4 linked regions of the Homo sapiens genome follow. The protein of the gene in region 4 purifies or fractionates together with the protein of the main gene of each other region. This does not show direct contact. Each region holds a gene or a part of one and is shown on either strand. Other genes may lie near its edges.

Region 1 (3,500 bases), on a different chromosome or scaffold from region 4:
TTACAGAGCCAGTAACTAGTAGACCTTGGATTTGAATCCAGCAAGGTGGTCTCCAGAGTCTGTGTGTGTGTGTGTGTGTGTGTGTGTGTGTGTGTGTGTGTGTGTGTGAATCAGGAAGATAGATTGTGTTTCATTATGTGTCAATTGCTATTTAAGGCCCCCCAAAGGACTAATGAAGGATTTGAGTCTGCCCTTCATTGCTCCTAGGTTCCCTGGCCTTGTGCAGACTGATCCGGAGTCCGCCTTAACTACTATGCCCTCTGTCTAGTGGCCTGTCTTGACAATATACTGAGGATTGGGGTTAAGAAAATAGTTCCCTCTCCTGAAAGACTGATTGATGTTCTTCCTTCTACTATCAGACACCAAGAGTCCTCCCATTCATCTTGTCCCCCCCTTTCCCCTTGGCTGCCATGAGTCATCTCAGAGCCAATTTGAGTGTCCAAATACAGTTGTCATCTTCAGCCAGGGCACTGGCATAATTTTCTCTCTTTATTCTCTGTATCGGGTGCTCTTAACCCGGACTTTTGAATAGGCTTCAGGGGAATCACACACCCACTGAAATGATATGCAAATTGTTGTGTATATGAATATATTCATTTTTGTGGAGCAAGAATTCATAAGCTCTAATCAGATTCTCCAGGAGTTTCGTGATCTTAATCTTCAGGGTTTCTGCCTGTCTTTCTAGAATTTCTGTTCTTACTAGTTGCATTGGTCATGTAGTTTATTTTTTAAGCCATCTCAAGCCTTTTTAATGCTGTAAGTGGAATACAATGTAAAACCATAATAAGCAAATGCGTGCAATGTTGCTATCCATTCTGAATTTTTAAATCTCTCTTGGTTTGCATGGAGGAAGTCTGTCCTCACGTCTCCCTCTCTCTTACCTTCACTTTGCACACTTCTGAGTGGTTTTGATGTCTCAGGGTCTCAGGTGTCTCAGGTTCCCATCCCAGCACTGCCCAGGCACCCATCTTGTGCTCATAGATCCAAACTTGCAAGAAGTTTGCTGACCAGAAAGAGCCCTTGATTTTGATCCAAGGCACAAATGAATTCATTTGTAGATTTAAAAATCCACTATCTTAATGCAATGGCCAGGAGGAAGCTTTGTGGTAACTAGCACTCACCTTGGTGTTCAAAATGTGGTGGTTTGTAGATACTAGTCAACACCACCTGACTAGATGTTTATTAGAGCTTATTAGGAATTATTAAGTTTATTTTCTAATCAACTTATTAGAGCTTATTAGAAGCAAGGAGCTTTTTAGAAACTCAGACTCTCAAGCCCCATCTCATACCTACTGAACCAGAATCTGCATTTCTGAAAAGATCCCAAGTAATTTCAATGCACATTAAAGTTAGAGAAGCACGGATATAAAACAAGAAGACTCATTTCTCAAGTTTGTCAAACCCTGGAGAGCACTTCAGTTTTCTGGAATTGGATGACCTGGGACAATTCCTACTAGGGTTCACTGTCCCATTACAAAAGGTAGGTAACAATACTTGCTGTTCCTCCCTCATGGGGTTACTGTGAATTTCAAATGAGCTCTTGGATTCACACTAGCTACGTATCATGATGGGGCTGATAGGAGCTGGAGAGCTGGCAGTGGGGAGCAGAATAGGTGTGGTCTCTGCCCTCATAGAGCTGATGATTTGGTCGGGTAGGAGAACATGCTGTAAATGCTGGTTGGTGTTGTGTGACTGTCCTGGTTATCACAGAGCCTTCATTCATTTATTTCATGCATTCATTCATTCATTCGGTGGTCAGCCATTTATTAAAACCTGAAGTGCCTGTACTATGTCACACATTAAGCTCTGAGCTGCACATGGGGAAGCAGAAATAAATGAGTCAGAAACCTCGTCCTCAGGGAGCTTTTAGTCTAGCCAGAGACAGAGATACATCATTGGGTGGTTCCATTTAGAACACACTCTGGCTGGTGCTCTGAGTTGGCACAGGGGGCTGTGGGGGTACAGGTAAATCAATGAAGAACTTTGCTTTTAAGGGTGATTACAAGTTCACAGACTGAGAAGAGGGAGAACAGCACTGAAGGCCGAAAGAACAGCAGGGGAAAGGCAGGGAGGCATGAAGGCACAGCATGCTTTTGCCATGGCCAGAAGGTAAAGAGAATTTGGAGGAGTGCCTAGAGATGATTTTGGAGAAGTAGCTTGAGGCCCGGTCTTAGAGGCTAATGAATCTGGTCTTTATCCCTTAGGAAATGGGGAGTCCCTGAAGGGAGACAATTGACGCAGGTGAAGATCTTTTAAGAGCAGCATGGAAGAAGGAATGACTTGAGGCAGAAATACCTTTAAGAGGCTCTGAGAGCAGCTTAGGGGAGAGAGGAAGTCCTTACTGGGGTACTGGATGTGGCGATAGAAATGGATGTAAGAGAAATTAAGGAAGGTAGCATTGACAGGACTTGGTGGGCAAATGAATGGGGTGGTGAAGAGAAAGGAATCAGGAGGCAGAGATGTCTATAGATGAGGAGCACAGTCCAGCTTGATGCAAGAATTAGGGAGTTGGGAGGTGACTGGAGTCGTGGGAGTGAATGAGACTGTGAGAGTGTGCGGTGGAAAGAGAATAGGGGTAGGAGTGGCACCAAGGCACCAACAGCAAAGCGATGGGCAGCAGCGATGAGTCTATGAAGGAGGCTGAAGGATGCCCAGAGGCAGTTCTGCTTTCCTTCATTCCTTTGGGCATGGAGAGCAACAACGCAGTGGTCACAACTCATCACCCTCCAGAATCATCGCTAGAAACGGCCCTGGGGTCACCACCCTTGAAGCCCCAGAGTGAGTGGGGCCTGAGGCTGGGGCCCCTGAGAACATGAACTGAGACAGGGATGGACATGCGTGGACGGACGCAAGCCCTTGTCTCCCTCTCCCTCCCTCTTTCCTCCTCACAGATGGTAATGTCCAACCCTTTCACAAATCATTTTTTTCTCTGAAAGAAAACCAAAAGGACATAAGAGAAGGAGAAACAAAAGGCATGCTTGAGTTTGTTTAGTTTTTCAGATCAGACAAAAACCCAGCAACACCTAACACGAAAGAAAACCTCCCAGACCGTGTCCTAAGTTGACTCCAATGAGCTCATTCTCTCATTAAGAGCAAAGAGAATTAGGTTCTATCATGATTAGCCAAAGGAAGATTTTACAAAACAAAACAAAAGAGAGGAAATGGCCCGGAATTGTGCTATCTGGTTCATGCTTTTCCATAGAAACAGGCCTGTGGTTTTAAACTGATAATGGCTCCTAGCAGCCCAATAATTGATTTATCTGGTGTTCTGGCTTTAAGGGAAAAGTAAACTGGCCTCTTTAGAAATGTTGGCAGCCTGGCTGGTCCATTAGTAAGACTGAAAAGTCAAAACATTGACTGGAAAAGGCCATTACGACCGGGCTCAGCAGGAGTCATCGATAGATGATGTCATTTCAGAAATAAATAAGCCAAGGTTATGAGGCCCCAGAGCAGGGTCAAAACACTCTTCACAGCCCATCACCATCCTCCATCGCAGATAC
Region 2 (3,500 bases), on a different chromosome or scaffold from region 4:
TCAGGAAGCATAAGGCTGGGTGACACCTGAACTATGTACCATTTCTGCCAACACACAACCCAGCAGCTACTGAATATGGACCAAGGGTTCTACCTTCTTCCTCCTCGTCGTCATCGCTGGACTCACTGACATGCACGCTGACAGCAGTGTTTGGAGAGTCTGTCCATTCAAAATACACCCCAAACCCAATGTCATAATTGTCTGTGGCAAATTCCCAAAAGAGATATGATCCTTCTTCATGGGTGGGTACTCGAACAGTGACCACTTCTCCTCGGCCCACTGTAATCACGGAATCTGCATCCTGCTGAATCTTCTCTTTGAAGTCTTTGATCTGAGGTCGTGTCCACATGGATGGAGCTGCTATTACTGGAAGAGATTCTAAAGGCAATAGGTATTAAAAAGCTAAAGAAAAAGAGCCTTCACCCTGCAGGTAGCCACATTTTCATAGCACTACCTGATCAGTTGTACTCAGGCACCAAGTACAATATGGTCTAGCTTAGATCAAGGACTTGGAGGAATAAAAAAGCCTCCCCATGGGAGTCTCTCCAGATTACTATGTTTAACAATGTTGCAGGCACTCAGAGGTCATCGTACTTCTTCAAGTAACAATGGCAGCCCACAATTTTAGAAACGAATTTTTTTCAACACTCCCTCTATGGGGATTCAAGAATGACCTTGGGAAGGCCCCAGCTGGAGTGAGGGAAATATTCTAGCAAGGAAGAGAGATTCTGGCTTTAGGAATAAATTACTCTTGTGGATGTGAACAAAGAAAGCTGGACTTTGACTTCAGCCTGTCTGTTGAAAAATTCTTCACCTCCAACTATCCCAAAGTTCTAGGGGCTATTCTAAAGGAGCTCAAAGAAACAAAAACTCGGACAGGATTAGAACCACTAGGGACTGAGAAAAAGGGGTAAAGTCTTGTTACTGAGCAGTACCTATGTGCACTTGACTATGCAATAAGTTTTTCAAAGTTAGTCACAGAGCCTTTGAAATATTTTCTCTCATTTGAAGATGCTAGTATAATCCCTTGATAAGAAAAAAAAAGGGAAGGGGGCAGTAAACCAAGGGATTTCAAAGCCTTTTCTGAAGCAATTATTACTTGTTCTAAACAGACAAGGAAGATCTCTGAAACCAAATTTCTTATGAACCATACCACCATCCCTGACCACTGTCACTGAAATGCTCTCCTCTTCCTCCTTACTTAGTTAACTCCTCTTGCTTCAGATATCTCAGGTCAATTGTCCCTTCCTCTGGGAAGCCTCTGGTGGCCTCTCTGACTAGGTCACACTTCCCTGTTTTACATTCTCTCAAAGATAATGTACCTCTCTCTCCATCACCGTACTTATCACAGCTACAATCTACATTTTCTGTGTGTTATTTTGCCTCACCACTGTACTCCTAGCACTCAGGAAACCTTCAACTAATTGCTGAATGAACAAATGAGCTGCCCATGGAAAGCTAGTAGAGCTTTGAAAATGCAGTTATTTTCTAGGCAACATGATACATTAGTCTCAAAAATATATCTATTTCTATGGTAGCCAGCCTCCAAGATGGTCCCCAGAGATTCTCACCTCTGGGTCTTCATGCACTTGTGAGGTCACCACCCACAATATATAAGGATTGGTATGTGTGACCAACAGAATATGGTGGGAGTTCCAAAGTCAAGGCATAAAAGACACTGCCACTTCTGCTAGGGGAAGCCAGTAACTGTTTTGAGGACCCTCAAGAAGCCCTATGGAGAGGCTTCATGGGGCCAGGAATTGAGCTTCCAGCCAAAAGCCAGCCATGTGAGGGAACCATTTTGGAAGCAGATCTTCTAGTCCTGGCATCAACATCTTGACTGCAATCTCATGAGGGAGCCTAAGTCAGAGCCATTCAGCTAAACTGCTCCTGAAACCCTGACCCACTGAAGCTGTACAAGATAGTAATAAATGTTTATTGTTATTTCAAGCTACTAAATTTAGGTGTAATTAATTTTTGTTTGTTTTTTTTTTGAGAGACAGTCTTGCTTTGTCACCCAGGCAGGCGGAATCATAGTTCACTGCAGCCTCAAACTCTTGGGCTCAAGTGATCTTCCTGCCTCAGCCTCCCAGAGTGCTGGGATTACAGGTATGAGCCACTGCGCCCAGCCTGTAATTTGTTATGCAGCAATAGATAATTTATATATATATATATGACAAAACATAACTTTTGTCTTAAAAGTGTCCAAAGACATCTGATTTGCTCTTCTACACTGGTCTATGAGTCACCAGAGCATTAGATTCAGACTAAAAAGAGTAAAAAAATGTTCAACTCTCACAAATATGTAATTGTTCTCAAAAGCTAATTATAACCTGACTTCATGACTTTTGCCTTTCACAGATTTGGAATTATGACATCTGGACAAACACATATGCAAAACCTACCTTTTGGTCCATTCTCCAGGGCTTCTTCTGCAGCTTCTGGTTCCAGTTCTTTTTCGGAGCTGTCAGTGTGTGTTTTGGCCTGTCCATTAACTGACATCATATTACTTGGTACAGTTGCATTCACTTTTGATGATGTAGGCAAGGAAGACCCAGCCACTACTACTTCCTGTTGTTTCTGTAATGCTGCCTACAAACCAAGAGAAAGTGAAGACACACTGACCAGGAAGGCTAGCAAATAAGACATCTGCCCTGGAGTACATCTGATACCATGCTTTTGCCCTACCAAAGTGCTATGCTCAAGAAATTACTAATAAATTTTTATCAGTTTTTATCCTGTCTATAATGAATATTATTAGTACAATATCAAACTGACAGCTAAAAATAATAAAAAATCAATAAAAATTAATGTGGACAAAAACCTGCAACTAAGGCTCACATTTCTGTGATCTGAGAATCACCATAAAAACTAACCAGGAAAAATGAAAGTAAGGCCAGCCAAAGTGGCTCACACCTGTAATCCCAGCACTTTGAGAGGCGGAGGTGGGTGGATCATTTGAGGTCAGGAGCTCAAGACCAGCCTGACCAACATGGTGAAACCCCGTCTCTACTAAAAATACAAAATTAGCTGGGCATGGCAGCACACGCCTGTAATCCCAGCTACTTGGGAGGCTGAGGCAGGAGAATCGCTTGAACTCGGGAGGCGGAGGTTGCAGTGACCTGAGATCGTGCCATTGCATTCCAGCCTGAGCAACAAAAGCGAAACTCCATCTCAAAAAAAAAAAAAAAAAGTAGAAATAATCAACCCAAAATAAAACTATTAAAGGCAAAAATTGAACACAGTAATGTGCTCTTGAAATTGATGGAAGAAAAAAATCTTGATAAACTTTAAATACACAAAATTTGAATTAGAAAAATTAAACTTGGTGGGAATAGTCACAGAAGAAAATTCACAAAGGCAGAAGCTATAATTGGCAAAATCTGGTATGGGCCCCCAAAGCAATAAAAAAATCAAATATGGACAATTTATTCTAACATAATTGACCCCAAAAAGTCAATAAATTAAAACTTCAGGGAAAAATTATGATCACAATGAAA
Region 3 (3,500 bases), on a different chromosome or scaffold from region 4:
AGCCTTTTTCAGAAAGCAATCATTACAAGTGGATCACTAAGGAATTTGAAGTTTGCATTAATATTAACTTTTAAAGCCAAATGTCTAGAATAAAAGTAGACAAGACACACTTTACATAAAATTTATAACATTTATTTAGGCAAAAAAAATCCCAAAACAAAAATCTGTACACACAACATTAATACTTAAGTGATGTCCTGATTTAAAATACAGCATGATTCATGTACAGAATACTCCCATTCATCTGGCCATAGTGAGAACAGTGCCTTCAGTCCAGATAATTGAGAGTCTTTGAAATATACACACTTTCCAATGAATTTTTTATATCCTTAGAAAGGAGTTAAACTGTTCTATCAGAATTCAAACAAAAGATAACTTCTCTCACACTCATAAGTCAGTGAGAATTTGACAGTGGGAATTCTACAAAAGTCAGGGATTTCTTAATTTTTGTTGTTGCAGATTATCTGAGAGTATAAAGTTTTTAAGGAAAAACAATGCTCTTAAGATCCTGCTTTTAATAAAGTGTCTCAGCTTTCATTAGCTAAGTAGCTTCTTCCTTCTAGGCTGCTTAAAATAAGCTTAAAAGGACCCAATTTGAACAGTTTTTCCCAAAATAAGTCCAAAATTAAACACATAACATTAATAAAATAGATTGATGATTTCCCACAAAATAATTTTGATAAACTTGGATTTTGGAAATATTCTTAATGGCCATTCTGTCTAGCTGTAAAGTTAGGCTGTGCTATCCAAAAGAGCTTTACTTTAGAGTCATGAGAAGCAGCACTGATCTTTGCAAAACTTACCCCAAAAAATGGGGAGAGAGAAAAACAGGAAGAAAAGTCTCTTTCTTAGGCTACCAGTCAGTTAACAAAGTATCTTAGATTAAGATTTGGAAACCAAAGAATGCATAATTAGGAGTGTACCATATCATGCAAAGTCTATGAAATACTAAATAAGGTAAAACAGTTAATCATTTAAAGCACGATGAGCAAATTCTCTTATCATACGGCTATTCTCATCACCGGACGAAGGTTGGTTTTGCATTATTCCTAAAATAAAACAGTTCGTGAGTGAATACTGCAAATTAAAAACTGTCAAAACACAGCAAATGATAAGGACTAAACATCCATTATCCACAAACTCATTTGAAACTACTACCATGGATTTGAGAGGGAAACCAAAAGTTTGCAAACCTCTCTGGGAGCTGTGTCAAAGTTAGTATTCTGAAGCCCTAGCAATACAAAGTCCCCAAATAAGTAAAATACAGATAAAAGTGGAAGAGCCTACATCAGCTCAAAGTAACATACTTCCTTTAACTTATGCCTTCAGTTTAATAATACTGTTTATACCACTACATTGTATAATAACGAAATAATGTAAACATACCATTAGAGGGCAGGAGAGGGATGGGTTTCACCATATACAAAGAGTTTAAGTTTGTTTTCCCTGCTACCTCTTTTTAACCTTGGGTGCAGCTGTACATTGTTCTATAGGGGTATTGTTCTATAGTTTAAAAACACTAAGCTAAATCTCTGGTAAATTAACCTAATTTAGCACATAAAATATGTTTTCATTAAACATATGGGATAGGAAGGGATAGGAAGATGGCCCGGTGTTATGTTGATGCATGGCATAATTAAAAACACAGCTAAGACCAGGCACTGTGGCTCATGCCTGTGATTCCAGCACTTTGGGAAGCTGAGGTGGGAAAGTCACTTGAGGCCAGGAGTTCGAGACCAGCCTGGGCAACACAGTGAGACACCATCTCTCTCTCTCGCTTTTTTTTTTTTTTTTTTTTTAACATAGCCAAATAAGATGACTGGGGAGAAAACAGATTAACACAAAAGGTCCCACCTGTAAGGGCAACTTCCTAAAGCTAGATATATAGAACCGATGGTTTTAAACATAAAACTTGATTATGTAGAAGTTTGCAAATGAAATATATCACGAAAGCAAATTCCCATGCAGCTTTATTCACCTCAACCATGTGTAATCTACTTAAGGTGACTAGTGCCACTATAAGGCATTACTGTCCCAGGGTGACAAGAAGCAATATTTATACTCAATTCCTGAAACTGGGGGTCTGATATGCTTTTTAAAAATCCTAAACTAACTAATATCAGTAGCCATGGAGTCATCGGCTTGAGGGTAAACTAATCCCTTATACCACTTGATTTATTTTATTAATTAGTTAATAATGCAGTTAATTTTCAACTGCAAAAAGAAAAAATTATTTTGTGGAGTAGAAAGACCACAGCAATAATTACTTGATGCAAAAAATAAGACACCTTAATTGTATTTGCTCAAATCTGTTGTCTTAATGATACCAATATGTATCATTATAATCTATTTTTTAAAAATTTTCCTCATTATGCCCTAGAACATCATTATACTCTAAAAAGTCAAATTCCATTTCCTTTAGATTTCCTTAATGTTGCTTGTGGACTGATGTAGTGATATTTTACATTGGAGCCCACCAATGATTTGAACAATGAGTGGTTCAACCCTAGTCTAAATTGTGCTTGAAACAGCACCTCTAGCCACTGAGAGATAACACTCAAAGGCACCAATAACAGTTATATTCTAGTCTACAGGTGCAAAAAGGAGGCCTTGTAGATTCTAACTATAGATACTGGCTACTTATGCCTCATAATTCCAATACATACATCCACTGTATTTTAGCCAGATTCAGGACCTTACACACAATTCTGTGCCTTAATTCTATACGCAATTTTAGGAACCATCCCAACTGCAAAGGCACTCAAATTTTTATATATTTGGGATGTAATAAATTATTATGCTTTTTTTTTTTTTGAGACGGAGTCTTACTCTGTCACCCAGGCTGGAGTGCAGTGGCATGATATTGGCTCACCACAACCTCCACCTCCCAGGTTCAAGCGATTCTCCTGCCTCAGCCTCCTGAGTAGCTGGGATTACAGGTGCCCGCCACCACACCCAGCTAATTTTTGTATATTTAGTAGAGACAGGGTTTCACCATTTGGGCCAGGCTGGTCTTGAACTCCTGACCTTGTGATCCACCCACCTCGGCCTCCCAAAGTGCTGGGATTACAGGCGTGAGCCACCGCGCCCGGCCTATTATGCTTTTAAGACTCAGAAGTATCTGGCCACTACTGATGTTTACAAAGTAGGAAATTTAGCCTGTAGTTCCAGCTACTCCAGAGGCTGAGGGGGTAAGATCACATAAGCCCAAGAGGCTGCAGTGAGGTATGATTGTGCCACTGCACTCCAGCTTGGGCGACAGAGTGAAACTCTGTCTCTACAAAAAGAAAAAAAGTAGGAAGTTTAATTTTTTTTTTCCCCAGAGTCTCACTCCGTTGTCCAGGCTGGAGTGCAGTGGCACGATCTTAGCTCACTGCAACCTCCACTTCCTGGGTTCAAGTGATTCTCGTGCCTCAGCCTCCCGAGTAGCTGGGACTATAGGCGTGCAAAAAAGCCACCATGCCCAGCTAGTTTTTGTATTTTTAGTAGAGACGGGGTTT
Region 4 (3,500 bases):
CCAGCCCAGGTCCCTTCCTTGACTCACCTGCTTTTGCTTCTGCTTGGCTTTTTGGAAAAGGAAATACAAGATTAAAGTTGGTGAAGGGGGAAAGGTCCCTGGGGGCATGGTATCCCCGTCCCCAGGGGAGATACTGGCTTCTCCCCACCCCTTCCAATCCCTCCACAAACCCTTCCCACACAGTTCACTTGGGCAGGATCCCCTCTTTCCCTGTGTCTTAGCTACCCACCTACCCAAAATGGGTGGGTTGGGGGGAGGCTACCTAGAGATGGCGGAGGGGAGCGTCGGTTGCCAATGTCACTCAGGCTGGAAGGGTTCCCAGATCTCCTGAGAAGAAAGGGAGGTGAAAGAGAGAGAGAGAAGAATGTGTCTCTGTGTATGTATGTTCTATGCATTATTTAATAATTGTACACAATTCCATATGCTTTATCTAGTGAGACAGGTGTACATGCAATATGTGTGTGTGTTTGTAGATTTGTTTAGTGTTGAGTGTGTAGAGCTGGGCATACGTGTATGTGTATTTCAGGGGGATATGCATGTGTATGGCATGCATGGTGACGTGTCCTGTGGGTACAGTGCAAGTGTTTGGGGTGTGTTTACTGACTCATGGCCCAACTCTCACCTGGCCTTCTGCTCCTGTTTGAGCCGGATGCTCTCCAGGCGCTGGGGGCTGGGGATGAAGGCGATGTCCCCGCCCTCTTTCACTAGCCGCCCGATCCACCAGTCATTGCTGTACTTCTGGGGGCAGGTGGAGCAGGAAGGGGTGGTGAGAGAAGCGCCCCGCCCCAGTCCTGGCTCTTCAATGTGAAGGAGCCAGCGAGGCAGTCACTGAGCTGGTCTGAGGAATGCAATGCAAGGGGCGGTGGGCAGAAGGGGCCAGGGGAAAGGACAGCCAAGTTCGGGCCACCCAGGATTTCTGAGTGAGGCATTGCAGCTGTCACAGGGGACCTCGGAGGCAGCTAATCTAACTGCTCACTTGACAGACATGGAGACTGATGCCCAAGCCAGGTCTCAGAAGGATGGAGACCCTGGGGATGAGATCTTAGATATGAGGGGTGGACAGGTGTGTGTTAAGGAGAAGAGCTGATTAGCTTGGGGAATTAGACTGAGGATTCAAGTCAGAAGCATTAGGATCTGGAGCAAGAGCAAGAAAATGAAGTTAGAGGCTTCTGGAAGTAGGGGGGTCGATCACCTCTTTAATGTGCAGAAAATCTTTGGCCTCAAAGTTGACTCCAGAGCCCTGGACTGGGCACTCCTCATCCAGTACGCCACAGTAGCTGACATTGGTCCTCACCGCAAATGCCACAGGTTTGTGCTGGAGAATTTGCCCATTAGTGCAAGTGAGAGAAGGCTCGAAGCACCCCTTCCAGCTTCAGTGCCCCAACAGCAGAAGGCCGTGGCCTCTGCCCATCACACACACCCTCTCACACTCAAGGACATCCTGCCCAAGGACCCCTTGGGACTTAGGACCGAGTGCAGGTTTCCACCTAGCTTGGCCTCCTGTCTTGCCCCATGCCCAGAAAGTATACCTTGGCCCTTTCGAGCTGCTGCTGAGCCTGGCTCTCTACTTCACGCCGGGCACTCTCCCGGTCCTCCTCCAGGGAGACGTCTGAGTCCAGAGATGGGCGGCTGGTGTAGGAGTCGGCTGAACCCTGGGTTGGGAAAGAGGCTGTGACTCCCAGGCTCCGGCATGAAGGATGCCATGGAGGCACCCTCCTCACCTTACAGTGTTGCCTCTATTGCCCCCAGTTTCTCCATCTCCAAGGGGATAGCTGGGTCCCTATGGCCCCTCCTATCCCCTGAGAAGGGCCCCAGTGCCTCTGAGGCTACAGGAAAGCTGGCCCAATCCATAGGTGCAAAGATCTGGGCCCCTCCTCCCCCAAGCCTATTAATACTGCAGCTTTGAATAGAGCCTTCACTTCTCTCTTTCCTCCCTTTTCTCCCCTCTAACATGTCCTCTGAGCCGAGGGAAGGGAGGTGTGCTGAAGATGATGTATTAGAGATGATTCTGGATCCAGGAGACCCAGCCCTCTTGTTCATAGCAGCCTGCAAAGCAGCCTGGACATCATCCCTTTAAGATGCCTGTCAGGAGTCCAGCCAGCCGCAACAGTCAAGAGATGCTGGTTGGCACAGCACCAGTCCTGAATGTGGGGATCCAGCCATCTGCCCCCTAAGATTCCACTTTCCCTACTCCAACAAGGCTCTGAAGGCTCCCAAATGGTGAGCCCTTACCCTTCCAGGGTGAAGAGGAGGACACAAAGCTGCCAGCTCCTAGAAGTTACCTCCCCTTTGCTCTCCCCACCCCCTACTTTTCTTCCTTCCACACCTGCTGGGGCAACTAGCCAGGTGTGGGCAGCAAACAAGACACAGACCAAGAACACAAAGCTGTCTCCCTGGGTGCAGGTGAGGCTGGGCCACACCTACCACTTGGCCTACATCTCCCTAGTCCTTTCCCAGGCCCAGGGGACATCAGCCCTAGAAGAAGGCTATGCTAGTGCCAGGCAACCTAGCTACGGAGCAGGACCCCGGGGATGTGGGGAGGGGGTAACATGAGCAAGGAGAGTCTCTGAGTCCTGCCCATAGGAAAGGTCTTGGGCAATGAGGGTGCATTTGACGGTCACAGAGTTCAGCCTCAAGACCATGAGGGAGAGGCACAAATGAGTAAGGGACGCTGGACTTTGAGACAAGAGCCCAGAGGTTACAATGTCTGGGTTTCCTCCTCTGTCAGGGAAAGGGAGTCTTTCGTTTCCTGCCTCAGTTTTCCCTCTCTGTGGGGAGAAGCCTCAAGTGATACTTCCCACAATTCTGAGATGCCAGTGGCAGAGAGAAGGGATAAGCCTAGATAAGGGGTTCATGCAGGAGTGTGTGTGTGTATAGGGGAAGGGGCTTTAGAATGTCCTCAGGTAGAGGAACATTCTCTCAAGCTCACTGGGCATGACCACCTACGGAAGGCAGCAGAGGCCAGACTCTCAGAGAAGAAGGCAAAATCACATACCTGCTGTCAACCATGCCCTCTACCCCTACCCTGCCGTGGGCAAGAGGGCTGTTCAGCTAGGGGTCAGCCCAGGCTCTCGAGCCTTAGGCTAAAGACAGTGTCTATAGTAGACCAAAGGCCTGAAGATAGCACAAGGGGGAAAGATCTTTCATTTTACAGAAGAGTAGTCCGCCGACTGTTCCTCATCTCTCCTGAGAACAAAATGAGGCTGGATGGCAGCAGGATAAGTGGGGGATGAACCCCAGAAATAATCTTTGCACAGGGTGAGGGACCTCCTTCCCAGGGGTCTTAGGACACAAGAGAAACCTCTGTGGGATGTTGGTGTCTGAAGCAACCAGACAGGGGCCAACAGACTGGGAGGCAGGAGGCAAGGCAGATGACCACTCGCTTTGGTACAGATACATTGGGTACCTCCCAGAGGCCCAGAACTGTGCTAAAAGAGGAGTCTGACCTTTTCTGCCTGTGCTCCAGGCTCTCAGCCCAATTTAGTAATCTTTATTTTTAT

What was found. The genes of interacting proteins can lie anywhere in the genome.
Region 1: the proteins of CACNB3 (region 4) and TMOD1 purify together in Homo sapiens (affinity purification with mass spectrometry; one large-scale study listed by BioGRID and IntAct). This does not show direct contact.
Region 2: the proteins of CACNB3 (region 4) and ACBD3 purify together in Homo sapiens (co-immunoprecipitation; one large-scale study listed by IntAct). This does not show direct contact.
Region 3: the proteins of CACNB3 (region 4) and ZYG11B purify together in Homo sapiens (affinity purification with mass spectrometry; one large-scale study listed by BioGRID and IntAct). This does not show direct contact.

The regions. Positions count from the first base shown.
Region 1 is NC_000009.12:97,504,666-97,508,165, reverse strand, and holds part of TMOD1 (tropomodulin-1), read right to left. Parts: intron 1-3,500. UniProt on the Homo sapiens protein: Blocks the elongation and depolymerization of the actin filaments at the pointed end. The Tmod/TM complex contributes to the formation of the short actin protofilament, which in turn defines the geometry of the membrane skeleton.
Region 2 is NC_000001.11:226,152,242-226,155,741, forward strand, and holds part of ACBD3 (Golgi resident protein GCP60), read right to left. Parts: intron 2,737-3,500; exon of another isoform or gene 2,593-2,736; coding exon 2,406-2,592; exon of another isoform or gene 2,362-2,405; intron 379-2,361; coding exon 94-378; intron 1-93. UniProt on the Homo sapiens protein: Involved in the maintenance of Golgi structure by interacting with giantin, affecting protein transport between the endoplasmic reticulum and Golgi. Involved in hormone-induced steroid biosynthesis in testicular Leydig cells.
Region 3 is NC_000001.11:52,823,953-52,827,452, reverse strand, and holds the end of ZYG11B (protein zyg-11 homolog B), read right to left. Parts: 3' UTR 117-3,500; downstream 1-116. UniProt on the Homo sapiens protein: Serves as substrate adapter subunit in the E3 ubiquitin ligase complex ZYG11B-CUL2-Elongin BC. Acts to target substrates bearing N-terminal degrons for proteasomal degradation with the first four residues of substrates being the key recognition elements.
Region 4 is NC_000012.12:48,821,496-48,824,995, reverse strand, and holds part of CACNB3 (voltage-dependent L-type calcium channel subunit beta-3), read right to left. Parts: intron 1,653-3,500; coding exon 1,530-1,652; intron 1,316-1,529; coding exon 1,193-1,315; intron 739-1,192; coding exon 623-738; intron 328-622; coding exon 263-327; intron 48-262; coding exon 28-47; intron 1-27. UniProt on the Homo sapiens protein: Regulatory subunit of the voltage-gated calcium channel that gives rise to L-type calcium currents. Increases CACNA1B peak calcium current and shifts the voltage dependencies of channel activation and inactivation.